Linked DNA regions of Homo sapiens. The protein of the gene in region 2 interacts with the protein of the main gene of each other region in a pairwise test. Each region holds a gene or a part of one and is shown on either strand. Other genes may lie near its edges. The genes, in order: NHSL2, ARID4B, DYNLT1 and DNAAF6.

The links.
Region 1: the proteins of ARID4B (region 2) and NHSL2 interact in binary tests that used the Homo sapiens proteins (3 or more experiments, as listed by UniProt).
Region 3: the proteins of ARID4B (region 2) and DYNLT1 interact in binary tests that used the Homo sapiens proteins (3 or more experiments, as listed by UniProt).
Region 4: the proteins of ARID4B (region 2) and DNAAF6 interact in binary tests that used the Homo sapiens proteins (3 or more experiments, as listed by UniProt).

What each region holds. Positions count from the first base shown.
Region 1 is NC_000023.11:71,913,832-71,920,863, reverse strand, and holds part of NHSL2 (NHS-like protein 2), read right to left. Parts: intron 1-7,032.
Region 2 is NC_000001.11:235,220,159-235,227,190, forward strand, and holds part of ARID4B (AT-rich interactive domain-containing protein 4B), read right to left. Parts: intron 5,405-7,032; exon of another isoform or gene 5,355-5,404; coding exon of another isoform or gene 5,337-5,354; intron 4,618-5,336; coding exon 4,545-4,617; intron 3,103-4,544; coding exon 3,008-3,102; intron 1,505-3,007; coding exon 1,407-1,504; intron 388-1,406; coding exon 144-387; intron 1-143. UniProt on the Homo sapiens protein: Acts as a transcriptional repressor. May function in the assembly and/or enzymatic activity of the Sin3A corepressor complex or in mediating interactions between the complex and other regulatory complexes.
Region 3 is NC_000006.12:158,635,970-158,641,771, forward strand, and holds the end of DYNLT1 (dynein light chain Tctex-type 1), read right to left. Parts: intron 5,392-5,802; coding exon 5,350-5,391; intron 1,926-5,349; coding exon 1,802-1,925; intron 1,237-1,801; coding exon 1,159-1,236; intron 929-1,158; coding exon 858-928; 3' UTR 505-857; downstream 1-504. UniProt on the Homo sapiens protein: Acts as one of several non-catalytic accessory components of the cytoplasmic dynein 1 complex that are thought to be involved in linking dynein to cargos and to adapter proteins that regulate dynein function.
Region 4 is NC_000023.11:107,209,600-107,216,631, forward strand, and holds part of DNAAF6 (dynein axonemal assembly factor 6), read left to right. Parts: intron 1-3,273; 5' UTR 3,274-3,276; coding exon 3,277-3,429; intron 3,430-7,032. UniProt on the Homo sapiens protein: Plays a role in cytoplasmic pre-assembly of axonemal dynein.

The DNA.
Region 1 (7,032 bases), on a different chromosome or scaffold from region 2:
CCACTGCCCTCCAGCTGGGCGACAGAGCAAGACTCAGTCTCAAAAAAAACAAAAACAAAATATATATGTAACCTAACCTCGCATTATTACTGCTTACAATTAATTCATCTGCGAGATCATTTTTTTTTGTCACTTACTTTAATCTAAGTCTGCATCATAGTTCATGCTCATTATCCACAAGTATAATTTGTAAAGGATTGCGTGTTCAAATAAGTCAGGAAACTGGGTCTCTCCCAGCTTTAACATCTATAACAGGAGTTCTTCACCTAAGCTGCACGGTAGAATCACATGGGAACTTTTAAATAGTACTGTTTCTTGGGCCTCATCCCCCAGAAATTCTGGATTTATTGGTATGGGGTGGAGCCACAGCATTAGTACTTTTTTTTTTTTTAACATTTAGGGTAAATTCTACCAACATGTTGTACTGATTACAGAGGACTTTGTTTTAAGCATCACTATATCTTGGTCAATAATATCTATTGGTCTACATAATGATTTTGTATAATTACTAAGAATTTAGCAAAACATTAACAATTTAAAAAAACTCTCTAGGTGCTTTAGATTGGCAGTCAGAGTCTATATGAGTCTACGGCTGTAATTAAAAAATGAAAAATGCAATCAGACATGCAGTGTGAAGGATTCTACCCAGGGAGATGGCTGGATTGCCTGGTGGCCAGGGCATCTTGTAGACACTGCTGAGGTGTGCCTATGTCCTTGAGGCTGCCTGGCTGTGAGCTCAGGTTTTCCTCGCTTCATATCCACGCTGGTGAGAGTTAGGCATGCTGGGCCCTCAGGCAAACTGCCCAGTACTTTACTGAAACACGCTTAGGCCCCATAAGTTCTGTGAGAAGGTGTTTCTTCACCCATAAACCAGGCTGGTTCTGTAAAACTGGTGAGCTCAACCAGGAGCCATGCAGACATCCCAAGGGGAAGAAAACAGAGAGCCAGTGAGACACTTGGACAAGAGCTCTGCCCAAAGGCAGGGGACACTGCCTGGCTATGCGGCTTGCATCCATCCTCTGCTGCTTCATTAAAGTCCCTCCTTGGCATCCCAGCCTGGCAGGTTCTGTGGTCAGCCAGCACCACATATTCTCTGTGACAATAAACATCTCATAGCTGCCTTGACTCTTGGTGGTGCCTCAGCTTCAGTTCCAAAGAATGTTTTCCCCCTTGGTTGGCGAGGCAGTGAACAGATGTCAGTGGGGGAGAATGAAGGGAGGAGTCAGAGGAAAGGAAAATCCTCGGGTTGGGAAAGATGAGCTGACAGCCTCAAAGGCTAGATGCGGCTCCTCCGTGGGCACACAAACATTCTTTACATATTCTGGAAAAGGGAAGAATGGCTGCAATTCATAGCTGTCTAGGAACATTCTTATTATAACTTCATCTTGACAGTACCCCCATCCAGGGATTTCAGCAAGCTTCGTGGAATTTCACCTTCTTAGTATTTAGTGATGGTGTCCATGGTTGCAGCATAGGCACCAGGCATTTCATTAATACATACATTATTTTGGATCCTCACAACAACCCTGTGAACTGGGTAGTATTTAACCCCATTTTACAGATGAGGAACTGTGGCTCAGAGACACTAGAGTCAGATAGTAGGTGCTGGGCAAGTGGGACTTCACCTGGAAGCTGACGATTCCAAATCCAAAGATCCTTTTCCTTAACATGTCATCCATTGTCTTTTCTATTTACTAAAAGTAATAGATGTTGATTGGGGAAATTTTGACAAATACAGAATGGTAGAAGGAAAATACTACCACTCATCCCCATAATCCCATCACCCTGAGATAATCATTGTCAGCATTTTGGCATAGGCTTCTCCAGTTTCTTCTTATGTGTATGTGTCTGTGTGGGTGCTCTGTTTTAGACGATATTGTATATAGTAGTAAATTTTATCTTTGGTTTTTACTCAGCATTATTTTGTGCATTTCCATGTAGCCTTATAATTCATTTAGAGCATAGCTTTTCATGGCTGTATATTAGTCTATCACATAGACCTAGGAAAATTTATATAACCACTCCCCTATTATTGAATGTGTAAGTTATTTTCCTTTTTCTGGCTAATGCAAATAACCAAAAAATGCAGTGGGGGTTCCCTGCACATTTTTCCCCCCACAATATCTGATTATTTCTTTAGCATAAAATCCTGGAAATGGAATTACTGAGTCAAAGGAGACACTCAGTGTATAACAACAAGGCCTGTCTTGCTGACAACTCGGAGATACCACCTCCTGCAAGGGCAGAGAACTGCCCTCCCCCTCAGCCCCCAAGGACAGAGGATGTTAACGTAAGGAGACCTCAATCACCTCCGGGCCTCCTAGTCTGGGGGAATAATTTGAGTTTGGTATTTTTCAGTTACTGGGGATCAGGCTATAAATTGTCAGGCAGCTAATTACACTGTGCTCGGAAGCAAATGATTCCAGTCAAAATAAAAACAGATGATAGATATTTTTTAAAAACTCATCTCCTCTTTGAGTCCATTTTAAAAAAAAAAAAAAAATTCTGATTTTCCCCTTGATGAATTACAGACGATTCTGAAGAATCTATGCTATTCAGAAAGAAAAATAATAATAAAAGATATCGTCAAGCCTCAAATTTCCCCACTCACAGAAAAGCAGGGGCATAAATAATACATTTAGCTTTGGAGTGCAACTGGATACACACAGCCGGGGACACACAGGCAGGTAGACTCTTGCTTTCTCTCTCTTTCTCACTGTGGCTCGGAGCCCCTCCTGCTCTGTCTAGCCTTTTTAGAGGGGCCCAGGGCCTGGCCCTGCAAAGCATGAAGGAGCCGAGGTTGCCTGGGTCTCATCTGCCCAAGGATAATGAAAACTTGAGTGTAGATAAAGAAAATCCACAGTTAGTTAATATTACAACTTCATTTGAACCATGCAGTTTAACCTTCTCAAGACCCTCATATCCAACTCCCTGACGAACAAACAGGATGTGAGGAACTTCCCACCCCACCTCCACCCTGGGGGCTTATTCTGAGTCAGGAGGTGCCTTGCTCCCTCTCCTCCTGAATCACTGGCAGTGAATTCCTCCCCCACACCAGCTCTCTCACATATCCAGGGCTTTGCACAGGCTACTTCCTGAGCCAGGAATTCCTTCCCCCACCTTCTTCAACCTTCAACGGCCAGCTCCAGATCATCCTTCAGAACTCAGACATCACATCTTCCTGGAAGCTTCGCTCAGCCTCTGTCCTGAGTCAGGTGTGCCTCCTCTGCCTTGCCCCGGTAGCCTAGACCTTATCTCCACAGCACTATGGCTCACTGTTCTCCCCACTGGACTGTGGGCCTGCATCCTAGTTCTACTCTGTACCCCCAGAAATCAGCACAGGGCAGGGCCCAGAGTCAAGTACTCAAAGAGTGTGCGATAGCTAGAAAGAAAGAAAGAAGGTATTCAATCTAACAGGTATTTATTAAGTGCCTATTAGGTGCCAAGCATTGTTTTGGGAGCTGGAGACACAACAGTGAAAACAGATAAAGACTACTACCCTCAAGGAGCTTATATCTTATTGAGGAGCTTACATTTTAGAAAGAGAGGGAGGGAGGAAGGGAATGGAAGGGAGGAAAGGAGGGAGGGAGGGAGGGAGGGAGGGGGGAGGGAGAGAGGAAGGGAGGGAGGAAGAGCTGCCTAATTGCTCAAACCTCCCAAGTTAACTGGCTGATACCTAGTGGTCTTGTGCATGACCTCATACAAAGCACTTTACTGCAAACTACCTGTACACTTAATAAACATACCTCCTGTTTGTGGCATTATTAAAGTAGTCTTGACTGTTAAGATTGCCATCCTGTGCCCTCTAACTTGAAAACTTCAATGAGGGCTTATTTGAGTGAAATTGTGGAGTTCCACAGAGCAGGGGAGAGCTGATAGCTTGAACCAGGAAGGCCAGCGATTCCCAACTGACAGTAGAGGACTCTAGAGGACCATAGAGTTATCACAAGAAGTCTGTTAGTTTGCAGATCCACCAAGCATTGTCTATGGACTGAATAAGCACTACTCTTCATATGCATGAAGATAACATTATAGTGTTTAAAACTGCAAATTCATTTAAAAGCATTGCTAAATTCACAATAACACTAACAGAATGACAGATTGGTTTTTATTTTTGTTTTTACCATAGGGAATTCTAAAAGTCCAAATTCCATCTTTGGACGCCAAACCGGACTGAGCAGAAGAATCTTCTGGTATGTGAACTAGGGTCCTGGTTCTGGTTATCAGCTCTCCTCCACCTAAATAAGACCTGATTCCCAGGCACCACATGCTGATGTGGTCAGGAATGAGATGGCACCTACCTCTGCAGCTTGGCAGCTCCTCGAATGGAGACATTGGGTCTTATTCACCTCTGGGTCTTTAGCACCCAGCACAAAGGTCAGACAGGGTCCAGACGCAGTTGTGCCCACTTTTCGAGGCTAGAAAATAATGATCTAAGGAAAAGACGATTTGAGGCCTTCAGAAAGGGAATACAGCAGCAAAGCCAGTGAGCCTGTTAAGCTACTTGAGCACTGAAGGATAAGAAATCCATACCCTGTAAATGTGTATGCTAAATGCACTTTTGGTAATAATGTTACTTTCTTGTTCCCATTGGTTTTTAATAAAAGGTGCCTTCTGAAATGCCAACCAGCCTCTACTAGAATAACAGAAAATAGTCAGGATGCAGGTGTGTGGCAAGTAGTGTCTACAACTGGATTGAAAGCTACAAGGGAGAAGAACAGGTATAAAGATGGCAGAGGGATCAGGAGGGATTGCAACAGTGTCAGGGTCACTGGCCAGCCACCCCTTCCCACCTGAAGATCCTTTTTCTGGAGCAATTTTCCATTCAAAGAAGACTATGTTTTGCTTTAACAAGAGAGCCTGTTGCCTCACACCTATTCTCTATATTCTCTATATGAGAAAGTTTGACCTTCCTTTCTCCTCTCCAGCTTCAGCTCACCCCCGGCCACAACTACAGAACCACAGGGTGCCCTCAGTTACTAAAGGTAACAGGAGTTATTTCTCATCCTGGACAAGTTCCAACTAGAGAAAATGCCAAGAAAATGACTCTCGAAGAACAACTGACTTTGAACTTAGCATCACTGCAGAGGGCAGAGCACTAGTCTGGTTGTCAGAAGGCATGGCTTCTAGGTGGAGGCCTCCTGTCACTGACCTGCTGTGTGACCCAGCCGGTACCACATTCCCAAATCAGCAGATTAAATACATGATTAGGCCACCAACAGCAGGGGTACAAAAGACAGAGAGGAAGGGAGAAAGAATCTAGTAAGATATTTTAATTTCAACATCCATGTGAGCTTTGAGCCATTTAAAAAGAGTAACATTTTTGTTTAAAGGTTTAGTATTGCTTTCACTTGGAATTACATATGGGGAGGCACTAAAATCTTTTCAGCACTCATGACTACTGAAGGTCTTGATCCAGCTGGGTGCCTTTGGACAGGTACCTTCCCCTTTCTGGGTCCGGGATGTCAAGTGTTATGACACATATGGTGGTTAATGACTGAATTGTTGGTACCACACCAGAGAGGTACAGGAACAGATGATGTAAATATACCACTCTCCTCCTAAAACCTAATCAATGTCGTCAAGGTCAAGGTTGAGCCCAAGAGCCATAACTTGAATCTTCTCCTATTACTCTACTATTCCAACATCCTGACACTTTTATCACTTTAGCTATTCATGTGTCTTAAAAAAGAGAAGATTAAATGTCTTGTTTCTAAAGTGGAAGAAATTCTAGTGGACATTTTGGTATCCAAATCTCCAGGGAAGATGTTTTCAACACATGGAAATACCATGAAGCAGACCAGGAATTTCATGGTATTTAAAAAGAAAATGGAAAGCAGGGTGGGGTGGGAAGAGAAAAGAAAATGGGTTTGCTTCTCCCTCCATACTCTGTCAACCCTCTGTCCCAAGAGCCTCGGGATGAAACGTACCACAGAGACAAAGTAAGCCCTGGCTGAGTGCCTGTTCCAAGTCCCCAAATTCCTGCCACCCTCCCCACTCCATCTGACTCAAGAGGCCATCTCTTCTCTTCATTAGCAAGGACGGTCAGACTCAGGGTCCACAACACCTCATCTAATGGCAAACTCATTGCAGTCTGGAGGTGCTTTTTTCATTTTTTCATCTCCGTATAGATTTACAACAGTCTATCCTCACACTGGAATTATGATTTAAACACAAATAAACCAGCTGTCCTTTCTGATTTGGAGCCAGAGTTGCCATAAAGTTGGAAAATCAAGAAGTAGGAATTTTACATAAAGATGAAGAGGGAGTTTTCACCACGGACCCAACTGGCTGTATTCAAGCCAAAATAATTGTAAGAAGCAACAGAACATCTTTCCCACAGCAAGTTCATGAGCTAGTGTAACATGATAGTTTTCCAGTGTTATTAAACATACCTAGAATTATCTAGCCCTTCAGTGACTTCCTTGATGGCAAAGGAGATATTATATCCCTACGCGGATGGCCTGATTGCTTTTGTAATTATCATCTAAGCACCTACAAACATTATATAGATCTCCAAGGGAGAAGTTGGAAAGCTTAGATTGACTCAGCATATGGTGGCAGGCATGGAGCTATTTCCCAATGGCTTTGACTACACCATTTTTTAGATGAAGAACCCAGTGTACAGGCCACAGATGCCATAAAACAGGACACATTCAAAACCAGATGTGGGGAAAACCTCAACTTATAGGCAGGGCCATGCCTAGGGTGTGGCAACTGCCACAGATCCACAACCACAGGGGCCTTCGGCAGTCCTGTGGTCTACCGTCTCCTCCTTCCATCCCCATCTCCCACACCATACCAGTTACAAGAGCTTTTAGGGCAGTCTCAAAGGGGTTCATGTTACCAAAGAACAGCCTTCAGTGGAGTGGGTGGGATGTTGCGAGGCAACTAGCCTAGCCCAGTCCACCCCTGTAACCTTGAAGATGGTGGGGGCATGACCCATGATTGTGATTGTGTAGAGAAGCACCTTCAACTTCTTCAGCATCCACTTTCTCCTCCTCTATCTCGCTCCTCCTCTCTCTGTCCTCC
Region 2 (7,032 bases):
AATTATACAAAAGTAGCACTTAATGAAGAAAATAAACAAATAATAAAGAATAATATTATACAATATATTGATTTTGGAACTTTATAGAGGATATGGAAAATATACCAAAGAAAGCAAAAGACAATTAACAATATCTGATTTACCAGAGAGGGCTTAATATTTTCTTTTCTTTCAATTTCATCCTCAATAGGCTTTTCTTCTCTTGGTATTATATTCCTCTCCTCCTCCATCTTTATTTCTTTGATCTCTGTTTCATTTTCCTCCTTAACTTTTATTTCTTTTACATTTTCACACTCCTTACATTGCTTGTTAACAACTTTCTCTGGCAATGCCATCTGAAATTCAATGTTGGCTGATCTACAGTACTCCTCAAAACCATATAAGTATCTGGAAACATGAAGAGAAATTACATTTGGTGAAAACATTTCAAAATATAACTATAGAGTTATTTTTAATGTGTATTCATTTCTTTTGTCTAAACTCTCAGATATTGAGCCATATTAACATTCTAATTTATTCTAGTTCTTTCTAATCTTTTCAATGCAAAAAAAAAATTTTGTCAAAAAATTCATTTAAAACACTGTGCTCAGAGTCATAACAATAACAGCTATTAAAAGTATTAGTAATAGCATCTATTTTTTGCACATTTCTTATGTGTGAGGCTGGACTCCTTAGTAAATCTCATTTAGTCACTACAGTAACCCTGGGGCACACAGCAGCATCCTTTTTTTGTTTTTTTTTGTTTTTTTTTGTTTTTTTGAGACAGCCTTACTCTGTTGCCCAGGCTGAAGTGCAGTGGCGCAATCTCAGCTCACTATAACCTCCGCCTCCTGGGTTCAAGCAATTCTCCTGCCTCAGCCTCCTGAGTAGCTGGGACTACAGGCGTTAGCCACTATGCTCAGGTAATTTTTGTATTTTTAGTGGAGACAAGGTTTCGCCATGCTGGCCAGGCTGGTCTTGAACTCCTGACCTCAAGTGATCTGCCCGCCTCGGCCTCCCAAAGTGCTGAAGTTACAGGCATGAGCCACCGTGCCTGGCCAAGCATTCCATTTTACAAATGAAGAAACTGAGGCTTAGGAGAATAAATAACTGGCCCTAGGGCATAAACAGTTAATAATTGGCAGAACTAGGATTCAAATGTGGATTTACTTGACTTCAGAATATTAGCTTTTTAACCTCTATGAAGTACTTGACAAATGTACTTAGCCACAAAAACTTTCTTCACAGAATTTCTCATAGATCTAGTATCATAGAATACACTTTAGAAAATACTATCATAGAATGACTACTCTAGTAAAATGTTCTGATTTCTTTAAAGAAATAATTAACCTCAGTTATAAGGTAAATTTCATCCTGCTTTCTAGGTAAAAATACTGAAGATAATCATATCAATTATACTAACTTACTTTTTATAAGCACATTTAACATTGTATCCTGCAGCTGAATTTAAGACAGGGATTCCAAGATCTTGGTAGACTTGTTTCCAAACAGCTCCACTTTCAATCTAATGGACAAAGTGAAACAAAAACTCTCAAATTAAAAGGTGTTAATATAATAACATTTTGATAGACACAGTATATATGAGTATATTTTTATATTTATTGGTCCTAGACTCAAAAGAATTTTTAAAAACTTGATAAATTCTAAATTTGGTTTAAAAATAAAGGTTTTAGTACTCTAACAAATATCAGAAAATTATAAATGTTGAAATATTAAGTCATTTGACTATTTTTTTTTTTTTTTTTTTTTTTTTTTTTTTTTTGGAGACAGGATCTTATTCTATTGCCTAGGCTAAAGTGCAGCAACAGTGGCACAAACACAGCTCACTGCAGCCCTGAACTTCCGGGCTCAAGGGATCTTCCTGACTCAACAACCCAAGTAGCTGGGACTATAGATGCACACCACCACACCTGGCTAATTAAAAAATTTTTTTTGTGGAGATGGAGTCTCACCATGTTGCCCAGGCGGGTCTCAAAGTCCTGGGCTCCAGCAATCCCCTGGCCTTAGCCTCCCAAAGTGCTGAGATTACAGGCATGAGTCACCATAACTGGCCCCATTTGACTTTTAAATAAACCCAGTTATGGAAAATGGAAAAATATTCAGGCTCTTAAATCAAAATTTTTAACAAAGAAATGGAGACAAACATTTTTAAAGGATTTATTATTTCGCATAAAATATACAGGCTAATAAATGCAGTTCTGCAGAAATTTGTAAAGTATTTTATTCCATAGAATATTCTCAATTGGATAAGTATCGTACATCACGTCAACCTTAAAATAATTTCTTCAGATCAGTTCAACAAACATTTCCTGCTTTAATCCCTTTATATTCTGAAAGGGATTAAGAATATACAGAATATTAAGACAGATCCCTGCTCTTAAGGAGCATACTGTCTAATGAAAAAGAGACACAGGAAGGATTTCCACCAATATGGCTGTGCTGTGACTCAGATAAAAAAAGAAGGTTTATGAAAGATTGACCAATTTAACAGTAATCAGAAAGCTGATATGAAAAAAAATCTTTTTTTTTTTTTTTTTGAGACAGAGTCTCATTCTGTCACGCAGGCTGGAATGCAGTCCAGCGGTGCAATCTTGGTTCACTGTAATCTCTGTCTCCTGGGTTCAAGCGATTCTCGTGCCTCAGCCTGCCATGTAGCTGGGATTACAAGCGTGCGTCACCACGTCTGGCTGATTTTTGTATTCTTTGTAGAGATGGGGTTTTGCTATGTTGGCCAGGCTGTTCTTGAACTCCTGGCCTAAAGTGATCTACCCGCCTCAGCCTCCCAAAGTGTTGGGGTTGCAGGCATGAGCCACCATGCCTGGCCTAAAAAATCTTTAAAATTTAAATTTTGTCTGAGGAGGCTAGCTGTACTTTCCACTTTATCTTCTTCTTAGGTTTTTACTGAAAAACTTTGTTTTGTTGTTTAGAAAAACAATTTCAGAGATGGCAGATACCTGAGAAAACATGTTACATGAAAAAGATGTTTCAGTTTGACTACAACACTCACATTATCAAATCCTCCAAGTTTGTGTACAAGTCTGAATAACTTAAAGAGATTCAAATTTCGATATCCAAGTACAGGTCGTTTGTTAATAGGTGTACCTGTTACAGAAAACACAAACTATATTAGATCCACACTACATTTTTAATTTAAAATTTCAAAAGATTCAAATAATACAAGTATTTATAGTATTTTATATATATATACACGTATATATATATATACACGTATATATATGTGTGTGTATATATACATATATATGTATATATATATATGAGAAATTATCTTGTTAATCAAAGACATGGTATCTACACATAAATAAGCCCATGGCCACTTTAAAATTTTTTAAATTTTAAAAACCATAACCAGATTCTTGAAACCTTTTATTTTCATTCTACTTTCTTCCCTCTGCTGAGGGAAGAAATACTAGATAACTGCTTCCCAATAAGAGTTACTTTTATGGCATTTTCTTTGTATTTTACCAATTTACTACTACTCTAAATAATGATTCTATAGTAAAGCTACATTTTTTTTTTTTTTTCATTCTAACACAAGAAAACGCAAGGCAAGGATGCTAAATCAAACAAACCATGAGAAAGTGGTAGAGGAGGTAACAGGGTAGGGGTACAATGCCTCATATGGCCATTTCTACAAAATATATGACTGGCTTAATCATATTTTTTCATTCTTTTCTAGTATTAGATTTTATTCATTTTCTTTGCTTTTTCATTTATCTTATACAAGAGCCTATGAAACAGCATACTTCTTAGGCCAACCCTCCATTCATGTAAAGAAATAATACAAGAATCAAAGACATTTTATATTGAAAAAGAAAATATACTTATATTGTGTTAGGCGTTGTTATCATTTATGAAAACTAAACATGACAAACAGAGTCAGTTTCTACTCATCAGCATTACAATCAGGGATTTAGAAAACGTTCAATTCCCAGAGTATTGTGGTGTTTCCAAACACTAATCATTCATTTTGCCCTTCCCTTCCAGCTAGAAAGCCTCTCCTTACTCCCTTACAAGCATCTTCCCAGAAAAGAAGAAAGTAGACTCTGACCAAGAAGATAAGCTAGAGAATAACAGTGTTGAGGTTACGGAAGGATTAGTTCATTACCCTAAGTTATTCTTCTTCCTTCAATCCTTCCGTGGCCTTAGCAGCTTCTGGCAGATTAAATAAGCTGAGCCAAGGCTCACTTTTGAGACTTTGTCACACTTCTTTATCTATTTCTGGCTTAATTCCCATTTTGCTACTGTTCTTTAGGGACCCATGGATAGGTAAAGGGATTGGCAGGACAGGGTAATAAGTGCATTTATGTGTCCATAGCCACAATATCTGTCAAAATGCTATCAAATTCCTCATTCTACTTGTTACGTGACAGGCGCTATGCTAGGTGCTGGTGATATCAGAGTCAAAAAGACAGCCATAATTACTGATGACATAAAGTTCAGTAAACAAAATTCTATTCTTATTTTTAAGATACTAATTATCTGTCCAAAACTTACCACGTTAATGATAAATAAAAAATACTCACCTCTATCTTCCATAAATTTGTACAATTGCTGAAGAAAGTTCTCCCTTTCTTCTGGAAATGGTTCTATTTCTTCCTAATTTTAATCACAGAAGAATATTATTTTCTTCAATTAAGCATTTTAATAAAACAAGCAGATTTCTTACCAATAGCAAAGACTAGTGTTCATTAAAATACTTCAAAGGCTTTTTACGTAATCAAAGTTACTCTTTTAACACTAAGCTGTTCAAAACCAGGTAAGTCTAGACATTTTATGTTTTATAGAGGAATATGCCTTAAAAAGTATCCCAATAGTTAGAATCCCCACAGTAAAAATTCCCATATGAGAAAAGGGACTAGCAAGACTGTTCGTGGTTTTGTTTTGTTTTGTTTTGTTTTTTTTACCATATGAGAGAGCTATTTTTCAAATCAGGATCACAGGTTCAAGAATACCTACTCTCAACTTATGCGAAACTGGATCAGAGTTAAACATCAAAACTAATTCTATTATTGCTCCTCAAGGTACTATAAAAGTATGGGTCCCATTAGCTGACTGCAAGTATCCTTCATTTTATGCAGCCCCACTGTATATACTTCAAGCTTACATAATCAGTAAAGTGGGGAACAAATTTGATCTACAATACCTGAAGATTCAGACTTAGGGAAATCTTCAAGTAATAAAATAGTTCCCCAATTTATCAATTACAAGGGAAGGACTAGCTTCTTGCTGCTGTGGCCAAGGGCTGTGGCAGCAGGGAGCTGGTCCTGAAGCAACCTGCAAGGAGCAGGGTAGTAGGTTAAGATTGAGGAACTCACCAATTCAATGACTTTCATCCATTCAACAAACACTTGAGCACCTGTAAGTGTAGGTACTATGCCAGGTGCTGAATCAAATAAAAGAAAAAATAGGCTATGGAGCCTACTGTTACAGAACATGATTAGGAGTAACTGCAGAGAAAATGATTCCAAATATACAGCTAGGCTTTACAGTTACTCTGGCTTAAATATACAGATTTGTAACAGTAAAAGTTAGGATATTCAACTGGTAATCTAAATAAATAAAAACATAGCATTTTTCAATTTGGAAAATCATGTGCCTAATGCCACTGCTTTAGCGAGATTGTCTTTTTAATTTAAAAGCTAGTACAACAAAGAAAGGTAATTTTTTTTTTAAAGCCTATGTTGATCAACTATTAGGTTTTCTAATTGGGCAGAGAAAAATAAATGACAACCATTAATTTGCTAATGATGAATCTGTATTTCTCAATTTAAACACACTCCATACATTCAGGTTTTGGTAAGGTGATCAAATACAAATCTAAGGACATCTATTTTCTAGATGTTATCTTAAATGTTCCCATGGTACAATATTTAACTTTAATAAACAGCACAATTTTTCCTATTCCAAAAACATTTAAGGTAAGCTTTTAACTCAAGAAAATGTTTACACTACACTACAGATTTGCTTTTACAAAAACACTTGTGAAAACACTAAGCACCAAAAGGTTTGGTAGCTATTTATCATCTGTTATATTTTACACACTATGACAGACACTTTAAGTATGAATACGAGTAAGACAGCATTCCTAACTTTAAGGAACTTACAAATTCGTGGGGAAGAAAAAATAGACAATAAATATAAATGACAAAAATATGTATAAGGAGCAGTAGTAATTCTTTTTTTGTTTTGTCTTGTTTTTGAGACAGAGTCTTGCTCTGTCGCCCAGGCTGGAGTGCAGTGGTGTCATCTCGGCTCACTGCAACCTCCGCTTCCTGGGTTCAAGCAATCCTGCTGCCTCAGCCTCCCTAGTAGCTGGGATAACAGGCACCTGCCACCACGCCCAGCTAATTTTTTTTTTTTTAGATGGAGTCTGGCTCTGTCACCCAGGCTGGAGTGCAGTGGCGTGATCTCGGCTCACTGCAAGCTCCGCCTCCCGGGTTGACACCATTCTCCTGCCTCAGCCTCCTGAGTAGCTGGGACTACAGGCGTCCACCACCATGCCCGGCTAATTTTTTGGTGTTTTTAGTAGAGACAGGGTTTCACCATGTTAGCCAGGATGGTCTCGATCTCCTGACCTCAGGTGATCTGCCTGCCTTGGCCTCCCAAAGTGCTGGGATTACAGGCGTGAGCCACCGCGCCCAGCCACACCCAGCTAATTTTTGTATTTTTAGTACAGACGGGGTTTCACCATGTTGGCCAGACTGGTCTCAAACTCCTGACCTCAGGTGATCCGCTAGCGTCAGCTTCCCAAAGTGCTGGGATTACAGGCATGACCCACCGTGCCTGCCAGGAGCAGTAGTAGTTTAGACTAGCAAATGAACTGGTGCTTTCCTGAGGTGAGGGAGGTGATGGTTCACAGGTTTCTCTTTAGAGAGATGGCACCTAAGTAGGGTTCTGAAAATTGAACAGGAATGTACCATGCTGACTAAGGAAGGAGGGGAGGAAAAGGTGGTGCCTACAGAGGTACTAGCATATGCAAAGGTGAGTAGCAGCAACATATGTAATTTGACA
Region 3 (5,802 bases), on a different chromosome or scaffold from region 2:
AGAGCCGTCAGGATCCTGGTCCCACGGGTAAAATGAGTACATCATGGAGAGGACCACAGCAGAACTTTTTTTTTTTTGGTTGTATATATATATATATATATTTTTTTTTTTTTTTTTTTTTTTTTTTTTTGAGGCGGACTCTTGCTCTTGTCACCCAGGCTGGAGTGCAGTGGCGGGAACTTGGCTCACGATCTTGGCTCACTACAACCTCTGCCTCCTGGGTTCATGCCACTCTCCTGCCTCAGCCTCCCGAGTAGCTGGGACTACAGGCGCCCGCCACCACACCTGGCTAATTTTTGGTATTTTTAGTAGAGACGGGGTTTCACCGTGTTAGACAGGATGGTCTTGATCTCCTGACCTCATGATCCGCCTGCCTCAGCCTCCCAAAGTGGTGGGATTACAGGTGTGAGCCACTGCGCCTGGTCTGGTTGTATAGATTCTGTAGCCACTCACTATGAAGAAATCGTTTATGATACTATGCAGACTATGAAGAACACAACAGACTTTAGATTTGAATAATTTATTCTAACAAAAGTATAAAGTATGGAAAATTAGTGTATTTGAATCATTTCAGAGAGTAGAGCAAGTTTCACACTAGCAGATTTCAGATTTTAGCACCTTTGAAATGAAATATTCAGAGTTAAGACAAGTGGCAACGCAGGCTGCAGGTGACCTACAGGGATACTCATCTGACTTCGGTGCCATTCACATCACAGTGCGGTCATTTGGTTTTTTCCTCTACATTGTGAAAGTGCCACAAAACAAAGAGAATGAGAAAAGAGTTCACTGAATTCATGGCTGGTGGTTAGAGGATGAACTAGAGACAAAAGGAGAAAGGCCATAGGCTGGACTGCAGGTCAAATAGACAGTCCGAAGGCACTGACGATGCAGTACATGGTCTTATTCTCCCATCGCACAGTGCAGCTCCCTGCGGGAGGGAAGAGAGCAGCATTTACGGCAGGGAAAGCTGGGGGACGACGTTTTACTCACAATAAGGCCAACATTCAAGTACCCATCTCTATGCTACACAAAGAACCTTGGCAAGTCTATTATTAAATGTTTTAAAAGGTGATAAACATGCATTGCATTCAAAGATAGGAAACTTCCAGTCATATATTTCACACAACAAAACTTCACAAACATGAATGAAAATCATACCGTCAGTAGAGCTGTCCCAGAAGCAGGAACTTGCTGTGTGTAATCCAGCTCCATTCTTCTGCATAATTACACAGGTCACTTAAGTTAAAACAAATTTTTGTTAGAGAAGTCTACTGGGTAACACAAATGTCATTCTGTCCACTTTTAGCAAACGTACAATGTATGTAGCTCCACGTGGTTGATGTTCTCGATAAAAATTATAGGGACAGATTGCCTTGTCTCACTATATTGACAAATTATAGGTGCTCCTTGACTTACAACATCCCATAAACCCATCATAAATCAACAATATATGAAAATGTAAGTTGCAAATGCACTTAATACCCTGGTAAATCCATCAAAGTTGAAAAATTCTAAGTTGAGCCACTGTCAGCTGGGGGCTGTCCACACTTCCTCTATGCTTCACTTGTTCTAAAAGCATCTGATGGGACCTCCTGTAAGATCCCGCTTCACATACGATCTGCAATTGTACCAGCAGCCAAATGGTCAAGCGTACGCTAACGTATACTACACACACGACCGACTCCCACCAGGAGCCTTCCTTGAGTTGAGCCACGTTAGCTGTTGTTTCTGGTACTGGATGCCCCTCTGATCAGTGTTAAAAAACCATCCCGCAAATATAAAAGAAACAAGACTCCATTACCGATGTATTTAAATGGTTTTCCCAGCTTGGTGAGTTGGCTTAAAGTTTGTTCTACTACATTTGTGGTCCACTGGTTCACTTTGCTGTGTTGATAAGCGTTACCACCAATTGCGCTTTCTATAGCCTAGAAAACAAAGCACAAAGCGCGTCCCGGTTAACCAAATGCACCCACACCACCTTTCAATCAGGAACTGACGGCACCCCAAGAAGTGATTTATGAAAAGTTTATTTTTAATCATGAGGGTGCCTTTGCAAATATACTTTTAATAGCATTATATTTCATTTAAATAAGTTTGAAATTTGCTTCAAAAATTCATAGTCTGTCAAATTATTTACACATTTTGACCTAATAATCACATTTCATGTTCACTACTATTAATACATTTTTTTTCCTGTTGAGGCTAGAAAGTATTTTGCCTATTCATTTCTTAAAAGTATATTACTTTTATCTACTACTACCTAACATACACTAATACTATATATTAGATGAATTGTATTTGTACAACTGACAATATACAAAGCTATCCAAATAATCATATATTAAAAAATACTTTTATCCAGCATTGTCTGAGAACATGTTACCACATTAAGTGCATTTTTCAGATAACTAAAAGCCCTTTATATTCCAAAACTTATTTTAGGTTTATGATGAGATTTTTTTATTTTTACTTTTCTGAGGCAGGGTGTCATGTTGCCCAGGCTGGAGAGCAGTGATGGAATCTTGGCTCACTGCAGCCTTGACCTCCTGGGCTCAAGCAATCCTCCCACCTCAGCTTCCCTCCTGGGCTCAAGCAATCCTCCCACCTCAGCTTGTCCAGTAGCTGGGACTGCAGGCATGTGCCACCACGCCTGGCTAGTTTTTTGTAGAGATGGGGTCTTGCTCTGTTGCCCAGGCTGCTCTCAAATGCCTGGGCTCAAGTGATCCTCCTGCCTCAGCCTCCTAAAGTGCTGGGATTACAGGCATAAGCCACAGCACCCAGCCCAACTTTTTTTCTTTATTATACGTTTACTTCTTTATCTATGCTGTATTCTTTGGGGGTTATCTGACAATGCAAGCTCATTGTCGCTGCTCTTGCTAAGCTTATCATTATGATATTGCCATTGTATGATTTTCTGAGTTTTTCATTGTCAGCTCCCCTTTCACATGGATGCCAGTGTGCTTGCATCTCAGCAACTTTATTCTCTACCCCTAACTTGCTGTGCTGGAAACCAGGAACCTGAGTTTCTATGACAGTTATGACCTAAAGTGAAAATAACAACATTCAGTGAGGGCCAAGGTCTGTCCTCAGACAGGCAGAGCAAACCAGCAGTCCAGGGATCTGAGCTGTGCATGGTGGTGATGGACTGGGATCTGATGCCTGGGGCTTAGATCTGGCGACCTTGCTTTTGAGGACCTAAAACCTCCCTAGGTCACTCTGATTTCTACCCACTGACCTGCTGATCATCTCCCTGAGACTCTTGAGTAGTCACGTTACACATAGGGCTGGCTTACTTCTTGTCCTCGGCCACTGTGCTCCCTCCCAGCTCAGAGGCTACAAGAGGGCTGGGGGGCCAGAAGTCCCGGTTTAAGAGAACAGCAGTATTACTAGACCTGGGCATTGTCAAAGGGTAGGGGGGGCTTTGTTCAAGCTAAACCTCTCCCGTCAAAGGGTGGGGGAGGCTTTGTTGAAGGTAAACCTCTCCCTCCGCCAGCTCTCCCTCCGCACATACTTTGAAATTCAGTTTTTCAAGGAGGAGGGAACCCTCCACCAATTTTGGACCTGCGCAAATTGACTACTACCCAATATTTAGGGTCACTTGAGTACAGAATTACCTATTGCGGCGGCAAAAAAGCTGTTGAGGCCAGTGACACAAGTTCAAGTAACACTGCAATGTCACCTCATGTTTCCATGTGGATTGGAAATGTGTTTGTTTTGTTTTGTTTTTTTAAGACAGAGTCTTGCTCTGTCGCCCAGACTGGATTGCAGTGGCGTGATCTTGGCTTACTGCACCCTCCATCTCCCGGGTTCAAGCGATTCTCCTGCCTCAGCCTCCCAAGGAGCTGGGACTACAGGCATGCGCCACCAAGCCTGGCTTATTTTTGTATTTTTAGTAGAGACGGGGTTTCACCATGTTGGACAGGATGGTCTCGATCTCTTGACCTCATGATCCGCCCACCTCGGCCTCCCAATGTGCTGGGATGACAGGTGTGAGCCATCGCGCCCAGCATGGAAATGTGTACTTTCAATTGCACTTGCTAATTGAAAGCTGGTAACCAAGTCAAAGATAAGGCAGAAAACAACTGCGGCAGAACTAGACTTCCCAACAAGCCCCCTCCACTGTTCCCAGTTCTGGTGTAATCCACCCACCTTCCTGCCCCCTGCTGTGTTCCACGTGAAACTGTGTATTTAGAAAAACCATGAAAACCAAACGTACAGATCCTGCAAAGCAACCAGAAAGTCACTCCTGATGCTGAACAATGTAAATGGTCAAACAAAATCATTTTGCCTTTGGATACTGATCACAAACATAGGTTGCGGTTTTTTATCAAACACTAGTCAATAATTTACATTAAATTCTAAATTACATCTGAAACCCCAAACAGTATCATTAAATTCAGATCATCTAATAGTTTTCTTTTAGCCAATGGCTTTAGTATCTGTGCCCCATTTTACCCAGGGAAGGCAGGGAAGCTGATGAGGAAAACTCTTTCTGGCTTCATTCCTACCCTAGGTAGGAATGAGCCCCTAGCTCTCAGCACCGCTCCAGCCACACCCACCTCCTTTCACTCCCTCACACACCATGCACTGCCCCCACTTCCCAGTCTCAGGGGGCCTTGTCCCCTCTTTTTACTGCATTACCCCTACTTCTCATTCTGCAGATTTCAGCTCGAAATGGTCCCTGAACTCCCTGGGTGGGTCACATTCCCAGTTCAGTGCTCTCACAGCACCACCACTAGTGGCACTTACCACACAGCAAATGCAGGCTGACACCTTCCAGCAGGACTGTTTGATGTGTCTGCCCTGCCTGCCCCTCAGCTGTAAACTCCAGAAGGGTCTATGCCCTGCACGCTCCCTCAGTGTGTACTTTCTGAATGAGTAACAAACATCCCTTCTGTCTCTCTTCCTCTTCATGATCAACAACACAATAAAGTGTGAAATTTAGGAATGTAAGAAAAGTAAGCAAATAGGCCCCAAACTGGATCACTAGGTCCAGAATAACTGGAAATTGATTGTTCAATTTTCTTATACTCACTCTTTCTTCATTCAACCCTGGAGACATTTATTTGTATACCAGGATTCTTTTATGCTTAAAAGATTATAGAATCAAATCTTGGTGATATGCAGTAATAATGCTATGTACATAAAACTCCTTATCTGATTTAAAATATGTAATTTACATAATATAGAAGCAACTCTTATCTAGCTATTTACTGAAGTAAAAACTGTTATTTGAAACACCAAAACACACAGACTCAGTCGAAACAATTCCAAGATAGTATTTAAAACACATTATTTTCTCTAATATAAGCCATTAAACATTTAAGAAGTGAGCATTTCTCCTCTTACCTCTTTTACAATGTTGCTCACTTCATCAACAACAAAAGCAGTCTGTAAGGAAGAACATTCAGTTAAGTTTGATTTATTTAAAAGATATTTCCACTACATTGATAAATGCAAATGTAGGTAATGAACATAATGTAGAAATGAAGACCTTAGAAATAATCTAACTAGACTGTTCAGCTTTACCAAGGATGGCATTACAGTCTTCAGAAACCAGAAGACTAGAATACATGCACATAATTTAAAGGTATTGTTTTATTTTTATTTATTTATTTTTGAGACGGAGTGTCGCTCTGTAGCCCAGGCTGGAATGCAGTGGCGCAATCTCAGCTCACTGCAATCTCTGCCTCCCAGGTTCAAGTGATTCTCCTGCCTCAGCCTCCCAAGTAGCTGGGATTACAGGTGCCCTCCACCACACCCGGCTAATTTTCGTATTTTTAGTAGAGATGGGGTTTCATC
Region 4 (7,032 bases), on a different chromosome or scaffold from region 2:
TTTTTGTGTTTTTTAGTAGAGTCGGGGTATCGCCATGTTGGCCAGGCTGATCTTGAACTTCTGACCTCAGGTGATCCACCCACCTTAGCCTCCCAAAGTGCTGGGATTACAGACGTGAACCACTGCGCCCAGCCCTGCTTGGTGGTTCTTTATCACCCTGATTTTATTTACCATATATACTTGAATTAATAAAATCTATTATCTATTTGAATAGTCTGTAATTCAGAGTTTTCACTAATTTAACCTAGACTTTTCTACAATTAACTGATGTCAAAAGCCATCTTTATTGATACTGTGAAGGAGACAAATAAAATAGAAAGCATGATCCCAGCCTTAGAACCAGTCTGACTTTAACTCAAGGTTACTGATGTTGCTTAAGTGCTGTGGGTCTGGAGCCAATCTGGTTGAACTTTTTCAGCCCCTGACTGGCTCCAGTGTTATGGTAATGAGCTGGTTCTGGAGTGTCAGTTGCTTTAGCTCATTGTGGCTAGTAGATGGTCCAATCATGCCTCTATTTATGAAGACCCCAAGTACTCAGGTTAATGTGGGAAAATCAAAGGCTCTGTCTGGAAAATGTTGCCATTAGCATTGGCCTAGCAAAAGAGAAGGAGAGAAAGAAAAACAAAGGGCCTAAAAAATTTATTTTCTAAATACAAATCTCAAATAAAAGACAGTAATATATTTTGTTTTTACTGAAACTCTTAAATTTTCCTTACTTTAAGTTTATTCTTGGCCTATTTAAGTGACAGTGCCAGATTCAAACATTTTAGGCAGTGTGGCTCCAGAATCTTCTTTTTCATTTTTTATTGTTATTATTTTATTTATTTATTTATTTTTGAAACAGGATCTCACTCTGTCTCCCAGGCTGGAATGCAGTGGCCCGATCTGGGCTCACTGCAACTTCCATCTCTGGGACTCAAGCAATCATCCTGCCTCGGGCCCCTGAGTAGATGGGACCACAGGGGCACACCACCGCGCCCGTCTAATTTTTGTATTTTTTGTAGAGTCGGGGTTTCGCTATGTTGCTCAGGCTGATCTCGAACTCCTGAGCTCACGTGACCCGTGAGCTCACCTTGGCCTCTCAAAGTGTTTGCATTACAGACGTCAGTCAGCCACCATACCCGGCCAGAATCTTCTTTTTAAAAATCGCTACACTGTACTATCCAATAAGTCAGGGCAAAAGGAAGAATGCACTCCAAGGTACAAAGGCAGGAAATTATAGAGTATGTTTAATAAGCAGTTTAGTTTTTAACAGAATATGTAGGAGAATAATAGAAGGGAAGGACAGAAAATTACGTTGGGACTATATCCTGAAGGACCTTGATTGCCAGACTCAGGATGAACTTAAATGTATATCACATTTAGAAATAAAAGATAGAGCTATAAACTAACACTGCATAGTTCATTGTAGTGAAGATAGTTCCCTACAAATAGTTCTTTGTAGTTCCTAAAAAGTCCTCCTGTTTTAGTTTTTCAGCTGTGATCCACTTGTGTCAAATGAATTTTAATAAATGTTTTTTAATAAAGTTGAATAAGTTATTCTAAATATGTTAGACTTCTTAAAAAGCTAGTAGAATCTTCCTTTCCATTGAATTTTGAATGTTTTTTTCTAAAAATTCACAAACTGTTTTTCTCTTTTGATACTTTGAACCATTTAACTAGTTAGTCACAAAATATTTGGGATTCTTTTGTTTATCAAAATACAATATCAACAAACTTGTCATGATTGATTTATTTATTTTTGTTGTCATGATTTATTAATTTGTGTTTACAGATTATTATTACATTTGATATGGCAAAAATATTTTGGCTAAAGTGGTAATTTTATTATTATATTTCTATTTTAATTGAGCTATAGTGCAAATCTATGGCATTTTATTCCAGCATAATTTGGAAGTCCAATTGTACTTTAAGAAGTCTAACTCCTAATATGCTTCAGATATATAAAGTGTTACTAAGAATTATTGTGAATAATTTAACAAAAACAAGTGTACACGTTCCAAGGAGGACCATCCCCTTCGAAGTAGTCACTTTAGGAGACTAATCTATTTACTCTAATGTTGTTGTTATTGCTAAAATTGCTTTTGAAACTTCTGTTTTAGAATCACCTTGAGGCATGTAGCACATTCTTTTGAATATCCTCAAAGAAGAAAATCTTCATATTTTGAAAGTAGACATGATATCTAAATATATCTAGAAATCACTTGGCGACAAATCTGATGTGTAATCAAACCAAATGATACCATAATGATACCATAATGATACCTATTTTCTTGGTGATACATATGAAGGCAATTCCAAATAAAAAGAAAAATCCCAAAATATTTTGAGCATTGATAGCATAATTTACATCAGTGTATAACCTTCCAAATGACTATTTTGAAATATAACATTCAGATGAATTTAGTCATGCTTCATTTGGTATTAATCAACTGCTGACTATGTGCCAGCTGCAGTTATTAAAGACACTAAATCTACAGGTATAGCTTCCCACTGCTCACACTGGCCTACTTCCCACCTAATGAGAACCAGGCCAGAGTTCCTTTCCAAATAACTGGTAGGGATTCAGAATTAATCTGGTTTTTCTGAATCCAGTATCCAATGTACCAAAGGAACCATAACATTCCTTCATAACCTCCACTGTGGGTACCTAGGTGACACGAGAAAGCCACCGACACAGTGCCTGGTTTGTTTTCTCTTTTCCAGCTGGAACTTTGAGCCCTATTCTGCCCTATTCTGAACCTTCATCTCTAGTAGTCAACTTGTGCACAAACCTCAAGAACTGTACCCCACCTTCTATAGGCCAGCGTCCTTCTTCACTTTAAATAGGTCTCCCTGTAACCATGACTTCAACCTTTCTGCCCTGAAGCACTGCTCATGTCTAAAAAATATGTTCCCAAATGATGATACATAATGTATCATACACTTTTTCTAGAGGTAGGGCTTAAGAATCTGCATTTTAAACCAACTCCCCCAAGTGATTATTAAGCACATTAAAACCCGAGAACCACTATACTAGGTGCTCAATAAGTGCTTGTTAGCTTGAGTATGACATTTTAGTAAAGCAGGCTGAATGTTTGAGTTTACTTGGTGCTCCAGGTCTGTGAGTTAGCAAAATACATATATTTGAAGGAGTTTAAAAGGATTTCCAAGGAAGTATAAGAACCAATGGAGTGATCCAGGGAAAGAAGGGAGATATGACAATAAAACATCTTCATGTCTTAAATAAAACAGAAAAGTAAAATACCTCTTTCTGATTATCTTTTTCTTCAGATAATGGAATCTGAAAATATGGATTCTGAAAATATGAAGACAGAAAATATGGAATCTCAAAATGTAGACTTTGAGAGTGTTTCTTCAGTTACAGCTCTGGAAGCCCTCTCTAAGCTACTTAATCCTGAAGAAGAGGATGATTCTGACTATGGACAGGTGGTCATATACTTAACAGTTGAATTAGTTTTGTTCATGGGAAGTTGTGGAACTGTATTTGAATAACCTGTTCCCACCTAGCTGTGGGAACAGAGCTGTGTCATTTGATACATTCACAGGAAGCTACAAGGCTGATTATGCATGACAATGTAACCTGTAGTACATTTCTAGCAAAGATAATTATATTTTTCTAAACCACCTGAACACTGAATAGGAAAATAGTTCTGTAACTGTGGTAGCAATAGCCACATCTCAAAATGTTGTCATTTATATTTATAGCCAAAGAATGCTTGACAACCATTGCAGAGTGGTAGCTAGGATTGTTTAAGCCTAGGCAATATTTCTATAAAACAAATATTTTCAGTTATACAGTATTAATTGGACCACCAAGTACCAGTCCCTTAATTTTTTAATTTGTCTACACATTAACGCAGAACAGAAAGTTTTTGAGCCAAATAATAGGGCAAACTAGTTTCAGCCTACCAAAATTGGCTTCCCAGTAATGCACAAATAAAGTTGTGGAGTCTAATTAGTTGAGTAGCATTTGGGGTCAAGATAGGTAATGCCAGCAAGGCTTGCAGTAGCAAGATGGGCTTCATTTTGGGTAGAAGAGTTCATTGAACTGACCTTTGACCACTCCAAGGTTACTGCCAGTATTCCCAGAACAATTAAAACACTTTTATATAACTCCCTGCTCTCCATTCTCCTATTTCTTAACTATCGGTGAGCCTTGGCTATCAGACTGCCTATGATAGGGCAAACAAAATTTGGGGCAAAAAATCCCATATCATAACAGAATCTGTCAATTTGCATAAAATTATTTTAATGAAGTGTTTTGTTATATGACCAATTTATCATGAATAAATCATCTTTCACAAACGTACATATCAATTTACTCCTCCCAAAATTTATTTTTGCCACAATGTGGAGAAAAAAGCAAGCTATGAACAGGCAGCAAATTCAGTGGCTCAGATTGACACTGAACTGAGCTACCACCCTAAGGAAGAGCTTAGGTGGAATAGGGCAGAATAAATAAGATGTGAAATGGGAATAACATTTGTAGAAGAACTGAGTCAGCTTGGAGCCAGGATCAGGAACCAGGAAGTTTTAGTCAGGGAAAAGTCTTAGTAGAGGCTAAACAAAGAAACATCAGGATGTTAATGACAGCATTAGCTATACACAACAAACAGGATACAGGAGAAAAAGTTAGGAACAATGTATCAATGAAGTTGGGAAGGCAAGCTCATTTTTGCTACCTTAGTTGAGTAGCAGAATAATAATTTTCTGGAGCCTACATCCTAGGAAAGGTAAGGTTATGCCATATAGAAAAAGTATATCAAGTATTTGAGAAACAGTGACCTTGAATATAGTGAAGTGGAACTTGTAACTGGGACAGATTCAAATATAAGGATTTACCCTGGTTACAGAGCCTATTCCATTTGGTGTTTATGGCTGGAGGTGTTTATTTGCATCTAGAGGTGTTTCTAGGAGAAAAGATGAGTGCTTATGAGAATAGACTAACATAATATTACTGAGTTGTACAGTTTATAAAGGAAAATTACTATAATAATGTATGATTCTGTATATCTGGGTTATAAACAATTTTGAGATAATTGGTCATTCAGACACCACAGTACAGATATCATTAGAGGACATACAGTATCAGAACAGTGGGAGAATAATTAATGTTTCTAATGAACTATTACATTTTCCAGGAGAGAAACTGCTTTTCATTTTTTAACATGTATTAATCTTGGGAACTGTGGGATGATTACAAGAGTGATGTGTTTTTGAAAATATGCTCTCTGAAAACAGCAAGAGAACAGTTGCATACACATTGCTTCATTTACACTATCCCTTTTCTATATGACTTGTTAAGAATCTGGGAGATTGAGGAGAGAGTGTGTCTGTCATTTTTCAAAGCCATGAGGGGATCTTAAGGCCTGTGGGAAATAAGGTTCACTGCTCTTCACAGACATTATAACGAGGATGTTCTGTCTTACATATTACAAAGTGGCATGAATTGCAGTGATAAATTGCTCAGATAATTGGCTGTAGATTCATGGTAAAGGCTCAAATGATGTTCTAATAGAAAACAATTGCCAGATGGTTTTTAATGTTTTTATGATCCCATTCCATCTTTTAACTTGAAAATTTTATTTTTAATCATTTATTTTCATTAAATTAATAAATTGAAACTCCCATGTGTTCTGAGCCAATCACTGTCCATGGAAAGTATACCAATTTTTGTCAAGAATGTCCAAGGTTTTACTTCTACTGCTTTTAATTTTCTGTGGAAGGCAGCACTCAACTAAACAAGAGGCCCTCATGTTCTGAGAAATGCTTTACTCTGACTATTAGTGTTCTGATGATTAATAATTTAAGAAAAGTACTACACATTTACATGACATTAGTGATTAAAAAAGAGGGAAAAAAATGTCCCAAATATTATCTTGGGATTTTCACATAAAAATGCCTGTAATGCCTTAACCGCAGACATAGCACTTTTGAAACACCTTTTGGAAAGGAATAGTTACTGTCTCAGACACTGTTGAGAGATTATAGATTAATTTCTGATTTATAACTCTTGGAATAGTTTCACATAATAAAGACCCACGTGAGCTGTTCCATCAGCTTTCAAGAACAGACACTACTCTCCTTGCCCAAACAAGACATTCTAACTTTTGTACATGTCTAAAGTCTTAGGAGATGAGGACAGGGGCCTGAGAAAAGAGAGATAGAGGTGCTAGTTGGCCAGTAGGCAAGGAGATAAGAATTTTTTGACTGCCAGCAGTGGAGTGAGTTGGAGCTGCAGGGTCTGTCATCAGCAAAAAACAATTGGTAAGAAATTGGGATTTTCTTGAAATATCAAAGAATCCCTGAGACGGGCCAATGAGGTGGTGTCGCTATGTGTTATACTTAGTTGAAAAAAATGAAGATTGCTTGTATTGGTGAGTCAGGGCAAGTCCTTTGGGGATGTGTATGCTTGTGCAGAAGATGGAAAAATAAACTTATGAAGTTATGAAGACTGAAGTACATCAGCATGTATTAGAGACTATTAATTTGTGGTTGCTGTTTAAATCCACTAGTTCAGTGTCATGAGGCGGTGGGACAGGGAAGTGTTTCATACCTATAGTGGAAAAAAGTAAAAGCAGTTATCAGGGCTTTTGAATGATTAATCTGAAGTCTGAATACTTAGCTTCTGCTTAGTGTTAGTTTTTATTTCTATAAAACTTTCACATACTCTGTCCTCCATCTGACTACAACCAGACACTGCTAAACCCCAAAAGTGTCAATGCCTTTATACTAATACTTGGTTCTAACCTTCATAGAGATGAATGTGGCTCGTTCCTCTATCCCCAGGGATACATGATTCACTGAGCTGGAACTAGGGTTTTAGCCTGACTAAAGATCAATTCTGCTCTTGAGTCTATTAAACCAAACACTTTTTGAAAGAACAAGGAAAGCATATTCGAAATAGTACTTGACATCTGTCTTTCTGTTTTATAACAATGATGGGTAATTAAAGTGGAAAGCTCCATGAGTTTTTTTATGGAAATCCTATCAAATTTAAAGTATCACTAGTCATATAGGTTATACAAG